Homo sapiens: one gene and its partners. The protein of the gene in region 1 purifies or fractionates together with the protein of each later gene. This does not show direct contact. Each region holds a gene or a part of one and is shown in the gene's direction. Other genes may lie near its edges.

Region 1 (3,652 bases):
TTCTATTCTGGGTTTTTAAAATTTATTTATTTTTATTTTTTGAGACAGGGTCTCGCTCTATTGCCTAGGTTGTAGTGCAGTGGCATGATCATAACTAACTACAGCCTCAACCTCCTGGGCTCAAGCAATCCTCCAGCATCAGCCTCTCAAGTAGCTGAGATTACAGGCCTATGCCACCACACCCAGCTAACTGGTCTCTTTTTGCTAATTGGTCTTTTTTTTTTTTTTTTTTTTGAGACAGAGTCTTGCTCTGTCACCCAGGCTGGAGTACGGTGGTGCTATTTCTGCTTACTGCAACCTCCAGCTCCTAGGTTCAATCAACTCTCCTGCCTCTGTCTCCTGAGTAGTTGGGATTACAGGCACATGCCACCATGCCTGGCTAATTTTTGTATTTTTAGTAGAGAAGGGGTTTCACCATGTTGGCCAGGTTGGTCTTGAACTCCTGGCCTAAAGTGATCTGCCCACCATGGCCTCCCAAAGTGCTGGGATTTCAGGTGTGAGCCACTGTGCCTGGTCCTAACTGGTCTTTTAAAGAAATTTTTGAATGCTAATTTGCAACACTCTGAATTTATTTTATAATATCACAGTGGATTGTAATCAGCAGTTTGATACAAGCTGGGCTGGGTAAAGCCTCAGTTCCTTACACCAGTGAGAGAAGGTAAGTTTGTGTTCTGGCCGGTGGGGCCAGGGAAGCAAATCCCATTTGTTCAATCTAGGCAGGCTTTTCAGAGAGGATTTCTGGCATCATCTCGGGATCAAAGCCAAGGATGGTCCAAAGAGTTGCAGGCCCAAGGGTAGCTGGAGGAAAAAGACTTGGGAAGAAGTGCTGAGCCACAGCGAGAGGGAAATGAGTGGATGGGGGCTGCGGGCACACTTGCCAGGAAAGCAGGAGGCCAGGTGTGGGAGCCCAAAGGTGAGGGAGATATACAAGACACCAGGGGCGGATCTCGTGAAGCTTTGTACTTGAAACAATAGCAAAGAATAGCAGCTATTCTTTCTCCAAGGCTGGTGGAGGGGCGACCTCCACGACCTTGCTAACCATACTTCTGGGAATCATCTCCTACACAGGGAGCAGAAATCCTTAACCCCAAAGTCCTGTGGCTTGCACTAGATTCTGTGTCTCTTCTAAGGGACTCTTCCTGTTGCCCTCATGCTAAGCAAACAAACTAGAGAATGAGTGCCTCACCACCAAGGCTAATCCCAGGTGTCTCATTTCGGTTCAGGATGTGGTTAGTACCTTGAGGAACTGTAGGTTTGAGAGAGAAAGCTTCAGGCAGCCAGATGGGATTGAGAGATTAGATGCCTAGGAAGAGCTCAATTTAACCCTATATTTCTTTCTCCAGGGAAAATAAAAGAAGCAAAAACAGGCCCTGCTGTGAGGGACCACGAGGCAGTGCCAGGATGAAAGAGTTGGAGTAACCTAGGTGATTCTGAGTGAATCAGTCAGGAGGCCTTCCTGGAGGGGGTGAGTCTTGAGCACTGGCAACAGTTAGTAACTACAATCTTACCATGCCTTTGTTTCTAACTGTGCTCCCTCTTTCTTGCTGGAGTGGGAAGGTAGATGGAAAGTAGCAGGGAAGACGAAGCCTGCAGGACGGTTCAAAGCTGTCATGGCAAACACTCCCCCATTCTGCAGGCCTCTGTGTGGGCTTAGCCGGGACAGTTCCAGAACTGATGAGGTGTCTAGCTCAAGCAAATCCCCCTGTGCTAGCCCCAGCATAGCTCAACCTCTGTGACAAGAAACTCCTGCTACACTGAATCCCCATTTCCTCCCCGAAGCCTTCCTCAAACCCACAGGGAACTCTACCTCTCTCAGCTTAGCTCTTACTGTCTGTGCTATTCTGCTTTAATTTTATTCATTTTTGAATAAGTAATATAGTCAGGGTTCAAAGTACAAAAGAGTATTCAGTGAAAGGTCCTTTTCCTGCTCCTGAATCTCCCCTGGTCAGGTGCTTCCTTCACCTGGTCAGTGCTATCAGTTCTCGTTCTCCAATAAGATTTTCAAATCCCTTGGGGAAAGGAATTGAGCCTTTGTGTCCCTCTGTGTACCAGACGGGGTAAACTGTCCCACCCCATCACCCAAGGGGGTCTTCCTAGGCACCATACCCTCCCTCTTCCATCCACACTGCTACTAACTCTCCTGGGTCAGACTCCGAATGGGTCATCCAGCTGCCAAGCAGGTCCCTTTCCAAGATACCCTCCACCGCTGTCATATTGCTCTTCCTGTAATGCTGGGCTCCCAGCTTAACGCTTTATTACTCCCCATGCCTTGGGTCAAGGGCAAATGCTCCTCAGCATGATGAACAAGGCCCTTAGGACTTGGTTTCAGCCACCTCTGTAGGCCCAATTTCTGCTACTCCTGCCATACCAGACTGCTTACAGTTCTGTGACTGGCTCTTCTGTCTCCCACCTCTAGACCATTGCAGGTACTGTGCCTTCTGCCTGAAATGTGCTCACCTCGCCTCGCTGACTCCTACTCGCCAGTTAGTGTTCGGCCCATTTCTGCCCCCGTGAGATTTCTTCACAGATGTTGCCCTCCCCCATTTGCTGAGTTTCCTGCATGCCGGCTCCTTCAGCACTCAAGGGTACCTCTTTGATTCTGCTTCTCACAGGGTAATCTCTGTTTAAAATCTGATGCCCCCAATTGACTGTAGGATCCTTGAGGGCTGGCCTTGCACTTCTCTGTGTCCCCCGCCTCTTGCAGAGTACCTGGTAGAGGCAGTTATTCAGTAAATACTGGTGGAATAAACAAATCTCTCCTATCTCCTAGACAATAGTTAATACAAAATAGATGCTCAAAGAGATTTCTTTTGTTTGATTTTTGACGGTGCTGCTGAATCTGATGTTATAAAAGAAGCCACATTTGTACCCCAGTCCAGAATGAATCCACCTCCCCACTTGAGATCACGATGGCCACATACTCCCAAGGTCTCAGACACCAGGCCTCTCCACAGGCAGGAGCTTGTGCGTTTAAACAATAGCATTAAATAGTACAACCAGAGTTATTTTTAAGCAAAACATGCAGGGAGTAATGAACGTGGCTTTGGCCAAGGGCCAGGTGCTTGAGGATAACTGCTGGGAAGTGAAGCAGGGATTTATCATAATAATAGAAATAGTTGATACCATTTATTGAGGGCTTAGTGTGACAGGTGCTCTGCCAAACATTTTACCTACATTATCTGATTTAATCCTCCCCACAACCCTGTGAGTTAGGTATTAGTTGCCCCCACTTTATAGATGAGGAAATTGAGGCTTAGAGGGATTAAGTAAATTACCCAAGGGTCACACAGCTGCTAATGATCAAAACTAACACTTTGTGGGAACTTACCATGTGCAGAGACTGCTAAGCTTTGTCCATGAATTTTGTGGGGAAGGAGCATAATCCTTGTAACAACCCTAGGAGGTAGGTGCTACTACTAGAAGAGGAAGAACTGGAATTTGTGCCCAGGTCCCTTGCCATTGATGTCTAGTGCTTAACCAGTGAGCTTATGTGTCCAGAACTCTGCACAGAAAGTTCTGCAAGCATTCATCCTCTAGGGCATGGATCCACATGCCTGGGGGTGGAGCCTGGTGAACGCCCATGCCCAGCCCTGCCGGGAATGTCTTGTCATGAAATCTTAGGTTTCTGTTAAATTCTTTTTTATTAAATAGG
Region 2 (3,239 bases), on another chromosome or scaffold:
GCTGTTCCAGCTTTGCATTTCTGTCAAGTAGAGGCGAATATATAAACAGTGTGGTTGAATACATTTAATGCCAGCCATTGGAAACTAGTTTTAGGCAACCACTCTCAAAAACAGCTTTAGAATTTATGCCCAGTTTTCTTGCATTGAAAGATAACTGAGTAATAACCTGTAACTATTTTTAAATGGCATGAAATTAGGAAACTTTTGTACATTTTATATACATTTTGAGATGAACAGAACAATGGGCTGAGTTATAAAAAGCGTGTATTGAATTTAAGAAGACAGACTAGCACAAAACACAGAATTCGTGTTAACCAAAGGAGGCATTGATTTCAGTTTTAAGGCTACTCAGTGTTGTGTGTCCAGGGAAATTCACAGCTCAGTATGAGAATACCTTGGTTAGTGCTCACCCACAAGCTTCCAGGAGCCAGCTGGGAGGAGACAATAGGAAGAGATGTCATCTCTGCTCTCCCTGTAAATGTTAGTTGAACTAAGTTATGGATTTGTGGTCTTTCAAATACATGACGCCTTTAGTATGCCACACTGAAATGAATAAGAAGTCTTCTGAAACTGGGAACTTCATAACATTGAAGGCAGAAGATTCTGCTAAGGAAAAAAGCAGGCAGGAAAGAAAATGTCTCATCCTTTCTTGAAAGCATTTGCAGAAAATATATCATTTCATTTTATTCCCATCTGTTTTCAAACTCGTGATCTTAAAAGGCATTCTGATGATAAATTTAGAATTTTCATCTATAAAATTTAGAACTCTAATCCATAAAGTTAGAATTGAGCTAATAGAGTGGTATGACATGGCACTAAAAATATAAATTTTTGTTGTAAGTCAGGATTGGAGTAAGCTGGAAAAGTATGTTTAGGCAAATCTTGGAGAAAACCAACCATAAACTTACAGCTCTAAAATTCAGAAAGCCCTAAAATTTCAAACACTGTTTGAAAGAAGAGGTGGGGGCCGGGTGCCGTGGCTCATGCCTGTCATCCCAGCATTTGGGAGGCTGAGGCAGGCAGATCACCTGAGGCCAGGAGTTCGAGACCAGCCTGGCTGGCTAGCATGGTGAGACCGTCTCTACTAAAAATGCAAAAATTAACAGGGCACGGTGGCATGCGCCTGTAGTCCCAGCTACTCGGGAGGCTGAGGCAGGAGAATCACTTGAATCCAGGAGGCGAAGGTTGCAGTGAGCTGAGATTGTGCTGCTGCACTCCAGCCTGGGAGACAGAGCGAGACTCTGTCTTAAAAAAAAAAAAAGGAGGTGAATTTTTTTTTAAGTTTTGTAACACTGTCCTACTTTATTTATTAGAATCTAAGGCTGTTACAATCAAGTCGTTGCAGGGTTTGGATCAGCTGTAAGTTAGGTATGCCTACCAAACATCCAAAGGTAGACGTGGAGACATTTTAATACTACAAAACTAGGAAAATCAGAACTCATGGCCATTTCCTGCCCTCCTCCAACTTGTTAAAACATGTTTATTCTAAAGTTCGAATGGATAAATTTGAGTATAAAGGTTTTGTTATAAAACTGTTCTTTAGTGTAAGGCTGCATTGTGGGTTTGGGGGAAATGTAAATAATTTTCTGTGTAAAACAAATTCATAGGATCTGATTTGCTCAGAGTATTATTCAAGAATGTATTAATAAGGCATTGCCCCCTGTTTGCACTCAGGGTTAATATGTCAAATGAAATTTAAGAAGGAAATGGAAGAATTCAGGTACATTAATTGCATATTATTTTGGGAAAGATGAGTCCTATACGTGGCAATTTTTCAATGTCATCTGAAGCCAGCATTATCTTCCAAAGAAATCGATCTTTTTTTTCTAAAAAAAAAAAATGCTTTTGCCTTCCCTTCCCTTCCCATCCGCCATATTTCTTCAGCCTTTCTTCTCGATCACCCGTGTATTCTTTGACCAGTAAATGACCACACCTCAATGATGGTAAAACAGCATCATCAGTAAGCTATCTTATATGCCTCATCCTGTGAGTTTGAGCTTCAGGAAACATGAGTAAAAGTATATGTAATGTATATAGTCGTATATGTATTCTAGCAAGAAAAACATATTTATTTTGACAAAGGGGAACACTGACTTTCTGAAGGATTCAGAAAGAACCTTAGTGAAAGGTTCTCAGTCTCTGAGAGTGGACCCTAATTAACATAAAGACCATTCATCAGCGAATAACTACTGAGCAACTCTAGTGTGCCAGCACAGGCCAGACATACTAGTGAGCCAGGCACATCTGGCCTTGGGAAACTCATCCTACAGGGGAAGGCCAGTTTTTTTCCCTTCAATTCCTCAAGTCTGGGTGGTGACAAGGTAGGGGCTAGGTACTGGACTACCACAGGTTTTTAGGAACTAAGGTGTTTCTCATAAACACAAAATGTTGGGTGAAACTGGGAACAACTACTCAGAAGCTCATTTATTTGCTTAAATGGAAAGTGTGGGAGCCACTACCCTCTCTTTTGATCTGCCAAGGATTTCCTCTCAGAGCTGTTGCACAGACAGAGATTGTACTTGGTAAGATACCAAACAAGACAGATATGGATCTAAATTTCTAATGTGTTCTATGGGTTTCAATTCTGAAAAAAGAAAATGAATAAAGATTTTAATAAATATTGATATCTGATCTTTTCCTCTTCTTTCCCCCTTCAGGATATTTCCAGTGGTTCCTATTTCAGTTCCCTTCCTGTTAGGGGACAGAAGAAGATTACATCTTTTGTGACCACTTAAACTTCCACAGGGATAGTTTCACAGTACCTGGTGGATTAGACCTTTAAATTTCCTCACCAGTCTTCAAACGGTTCATACTAGATTGTAACTATACCAAAATTTTCTATGGGATCATTGTTAGGTGCTTTTTGTATATTTAATAGTTAACTCCATTTTTGCAGCTTCCTTAGAGGTAAAGAATTATGAATCCTGAAGAACTTGTCAGCACACTACAAAAAAGGCAGGAAGAGAAGGCCAGTTGCCCTAGTAGTACTTCTTAGGACACCTAGATTTTTAACTTTTGAAATAGAATCCAGCATCATAAACCTCAACCAGGTAACTGAGCAAAGCTCTTAAGATTTTTATTGGGCCAGGCACCATGGCTCATGTCTGTAATCCCGGCACTTTGGGAGGCCAAGGCCCGTGGGTCACCTGAGGTCGGGAGTTTGAGACCAGCCTGGCCAACATGGTGAAACCCCTTCTCTACTAAAAATACAAAATTAGCCAGCTTGGTGCATGCCTGTA
Region 3 (3,652 bases), on another chromosome or scaffold:
AGCTGCTCCGTGGAATGAATGAATGAACAGCCTGGTAGGGTTGGGAGGACACAGAAGCAGTGACAACACAGAATGTGACAGGGAAGGCCAGGGGCCTGGGGTTGCCCGGCGCTGGGTGGGGAGGGGAGTCAGGGAAGCCTTCCTGGAGGTGGTGCCCATGTTGCTGACTTTGGACCTCTGTGAGATCAGCACTGAATGAGCTGAGAGAGGAGTAGCTCCTCTCCAAAGGTAGCTGGCAAGGAGGAGAGCTTGGGCAGACCCCAGGACCAGTGGACTCCACAGGCCTCTCACTTCCCACCAACCCACACCATCTCTCCATCTGTGACATTCTGCTTTCAGGGCATGAGGAAGGCGGAAAGGCAGGTGGGGAGGAAGTGTGGGCTGCTGGTCTGACAGGCTCAGCTCTTCCCAGGCTTGTGACCAAATCTCCTGCAGAAAAGGATAAACAGGCCTGCTTTGAGTTCTTTTATCTTCTTGCTCCCAAGGCACACCAGCAAGCAGAGGGGGTCTTCCAGCGTTAATCCTGCAGCTGTTTAGCTTTTGAACGAGTGGACTCTTTAAAAAAAATGCCACGAAGAATGTCTCACTCTCTCACCCAGGAGGCTCAAAGAGAAACTTCTCTCCCACTGACAAGGGAGCTGGAACCCCCAAGTGTCTTAAAGAAGCTCACCCCAGGGGCAGTCTGAAATCAGGGGACCCCTCATGCTGCCTCGATTTGTTGCTGGCTGTGGGGCCTTGAGGACACCCTTATATTTTGCTTGGCTTCTGCCCATTTTGTAAAATGGGGTCAGGGTAATAAATCCCTTCTTTCCTTAGAAAGGCGTGTGGCAGGAGAGTTTCAGAGGTGGGAAGGGCAGCAGTGGGCATCCAAGCCCATGGCTTTCAAACTTTGTTTCACATTAGAATCATCTGGGAAACTTTTAAAAGTCCTGCAGGCCCCACAATCTCTGGGGCATGACCCAGGCATCAGTAGTTGATGAAGCTCCCCTGGTGATTTCAGTTTGAGAGCCACCTGGCTGCCCTCTGCAGCCTACCTCCCACAGTGTCCCAAGACAATACTTGCACATCCCCAGGACAAGGAGCTCATTCCTTCCGAGGCTGCTTCCTCCCCCCAGGACCTTCCTGCCTGGAGAGATGAGGGGAGTGGGAAGACTTGGTAATCCAGTTAACCTGGGTTCCAGCATGCAGCTGCTCCCTGCGTGTCTTCTCGGAGCCTCAGTTTCCTCATCTGAAAAATGACAATAACGATCTCTCTGAAAGGGCCACAGAGGCCAGACGAGGCCACACATGGCAAGCACCCACCCCATACCTGACGCCGGGCTGGACTGAGACCCTGAACTCCCTGCCCCAGCCACCTGAGGCCAGGTCTCTGAGACTGGCGCTGGTTAGGGTGGGATCAACACCCAGCCCGGGGGCCCTTCCCACTGTCCCCTTTCTCTCTAAGAGATAAGACAAGGCAGTAAGCATTTTGTTTTGCTCAGTTTTGCTTTAATGGTCAAAGTGTCAGACTCTCCTTAACAATGAAGCCTTGTCTGAATCTGCTTGTTTTTCCAACCCGGACACCCAACTGCACCACCTGCTTGGGGCCCCTGTCCCACCTGGGAGAACTGAAGAATGTCAGAGGATTTTTTTTTTTAATCTAGGGGAGGGTGTCCAGGGAACATTGGAGGCCTCTGTGCAAATCCTCACCGATAATTGACCCCACTTAAGTCATCCAACTCTGCTGTGATTGTGAGCCAGTTCACTAAAATTATTTCAAGGTAGTTACTAGGTGTTGAGCTAAACCCCTATCAGTGCCAGTGAGGATGGCACCAGGCTCAAGAGGCCAAAGAGGAGACCCAGAGCCAGCGAATGAGCCATGGGGTTTTACTACGGGCTCACACACAGGGGAGAGAGTCCAGTGGCTGCTGGCTGGACCGAAGAACCACAACCACTCGCAGGAAGTGTGCAGTTTTTTTGTTTTTGGTTTTGGTTTTGGTTTTTTTTTTTGAGACAGAGTTTCGTTCTTATTGCCCAGGCTGGAGTGCAATGGCGCGATCTTCACTCACTGCAGCCTCCGCCTCCCAGGTTCAAGCGATTCTCCTGCCTCAGCCTCCCAAGTAGCTGGGATTACAGGCAAGTGCCACCACACGCAGCTAATTTTGTATTTTTAGTAGAGATGGAGTTTCGCTATGTTGGTTAGGCTGGTCTCAAACTCCTGACTTCAGGTGATCCGCCTGCCTCAGCCTCCCAAAGTGCTGGGATTATAGCTGTGAGCTACCGCCCCCCAGCCTAAAAGCTTGCAATTTCTATAGCATTTTCACTTAGCACCTCCCCCAACAACTTCCACCTAGCAACCTCCATTTACCCCAAACCACAGACCTCAATCCTCTGTTTGGCCCGCAAGTTCCATAGGATGGGCCAAGAGCTCAGATGTTCCTCATAGATAAGGAGTGGATCTCCGGGTTGGCTACTCCCAGATTCCTTAGCTTAGAACCAAACTGCATTGAGGTGCGCCTGCCATACAAGGTCATTCTCAGGGCTTGCTCAAGTCCAGGTATCACTGTCCAACGTGTCTACCATACAGAAGACAGAAAACTTATGTTGATCCTGGCTTTGTCACTTACTGGCAGGATGACCCTGGAAGAATCATTTTATCTCTTTGAGCACGAGTTGTTTCTCCTATAAAATGCATTTGTAGGAAGGACTTCCTGGGATTACCTGAGAAGCAAATAAAATTACTGGTATGTGGAGCACAGTGCCTACCGTAAACTAAGCACTCAAGAGCTGTTGGTGCATGCACTTGCTGGGGAGCTGACCCCTGCCTCCTGCCCCTTCCTTCACTGGCTGGTCCACGCTCCCTGTCTCCCAGTCTGCTCCCCTTGCCCCACCAGGCCCAGGCTGAGACAGAGGACAGAGGAGGCCTGCACATGTAATCATGGGCATCCCTTCAAACTGCTCTTCTTTAAGACCAGAGGAGGCTCTGAGGACTGGACAGAGGAAGACTACAAAAGGGGCCATCAGTGGCAGTGCTTGGTCTCCTTGCCTGGGCACAGCCAGAGAGGGTACATCAACCCAGAGTGACTGGCTCAGGCATTAGGCGTGTGACAAATCAACACGGGATAGTGCAGCACCGAGGGACTAGCAGTGGCTGGGAGCAGTTACCACTCAGGGCTGAAGGAGCAAGGGAAGTGGGCAGCTATAGGGATAGGGGCTGTGGGCCATCAGTACAGGGACCCAGTCAACCCAGGAGACCTCACAGGGGATAAACTTCAACTATCTTTCCTCTTTCCTTCAGTCCCCCATTTATGCTTCCTGTTGGGTGTACCTCTCTGAAAGCCAGCAGCATGGAGCCCATTACATTCCACAGAGGTCAGTTCCCAGGGCCCCAAACAAGGTAGAGAGTGGCTCTGGAGAAGCAAACCAAAGACACTTCCTCACTCTGTCCATCAAAAGCCCGGGAGTCCACTGAATACACTGTCCTTAGGACACAGTTTAAAGATCATCTGTTTTTACCATACCCCTTAATGAAGGGGCTCTCAGCCCTTACCCCAAAGATGAATCAGCAGCCGAGCTGCCACAGACACCTCGGCGAGAGGAGTTTTGGAGGTACCCATCTCTCCCTCTCTGCCTCCTCCACCAAAGTAAGCTATAGATGGCTTCTGGGGTGACC

The links.
Region 2: the proteins of GALNT6 (region 1) and FAM20B purify together in Homo sapiens (affinity purification with mass spectrometry; 2 studies listed by BioGRID and IntAct, with this or other methods). This does not show direct contact.
Region 3: the proteins of GALNT6 (region 1) and GDPD5 purify together in Homo sapiens (co-immunoprecipitation; one large-scale study listed by IntAct). This does not show direct contact.

The regions. Positions count from the first base shown.
Region 1 is NC_000012.12:51,381,274-51,384,925, reverse strand, and holds part of GALNT6 (polypeptide N-acetylgalactosaminyltransferase 6), read left to right. Parts: intron 1-1,343; exon of another isoform or gene 1,344-1,465; intron 1,466-2,416; exon of another isoform or gene 2,417-2,613; intron 2,614-3,652. UniProt on the Homo sapiens protein: Catalyzes the initial reaction in O-linked oligosaccharide biosynthesis, the transfer of an N-acetyl-D-galactosamine residue to a serine or threonine residue on the protein receptor. May participate in synthesis of oncofetal fibronectin.
Region 2 is NC_000001.11:179,073,944-179,077,182, forward strand, and holds the end of FAM20B (glycosaminoglycan xylosylkinase), read left to right. Parts: 3' UTR 1-2,624; downstream 2,625-3,239. UniProt on the Homo sapiens protein: Responsible for the 2-O-phosphorylation of xylose in the glycosaminoglycan-protein linkage region of proteoglycans thereby regulating the amount of mature GAG chains.
Region 3 is NC_000011.10:75,515,792-75,519,443, reverse strand, and holds part of GDPD5 (glycerophosphodiester phosphodiesterase domain-containing protein 5), read left to right. Parts: exon of another isoform or gene 1-429; intron 430-1,170; exon of another isoform or gene 1,171-1,228; intron 1,229-2,017; exon of another isoform or gene 2,018-3,652. UniProt on the Homo sapiens protein: Glycerophosphodiester phosphodiesterase that promotes neurite formation and drives spinal motor neuron differentiation.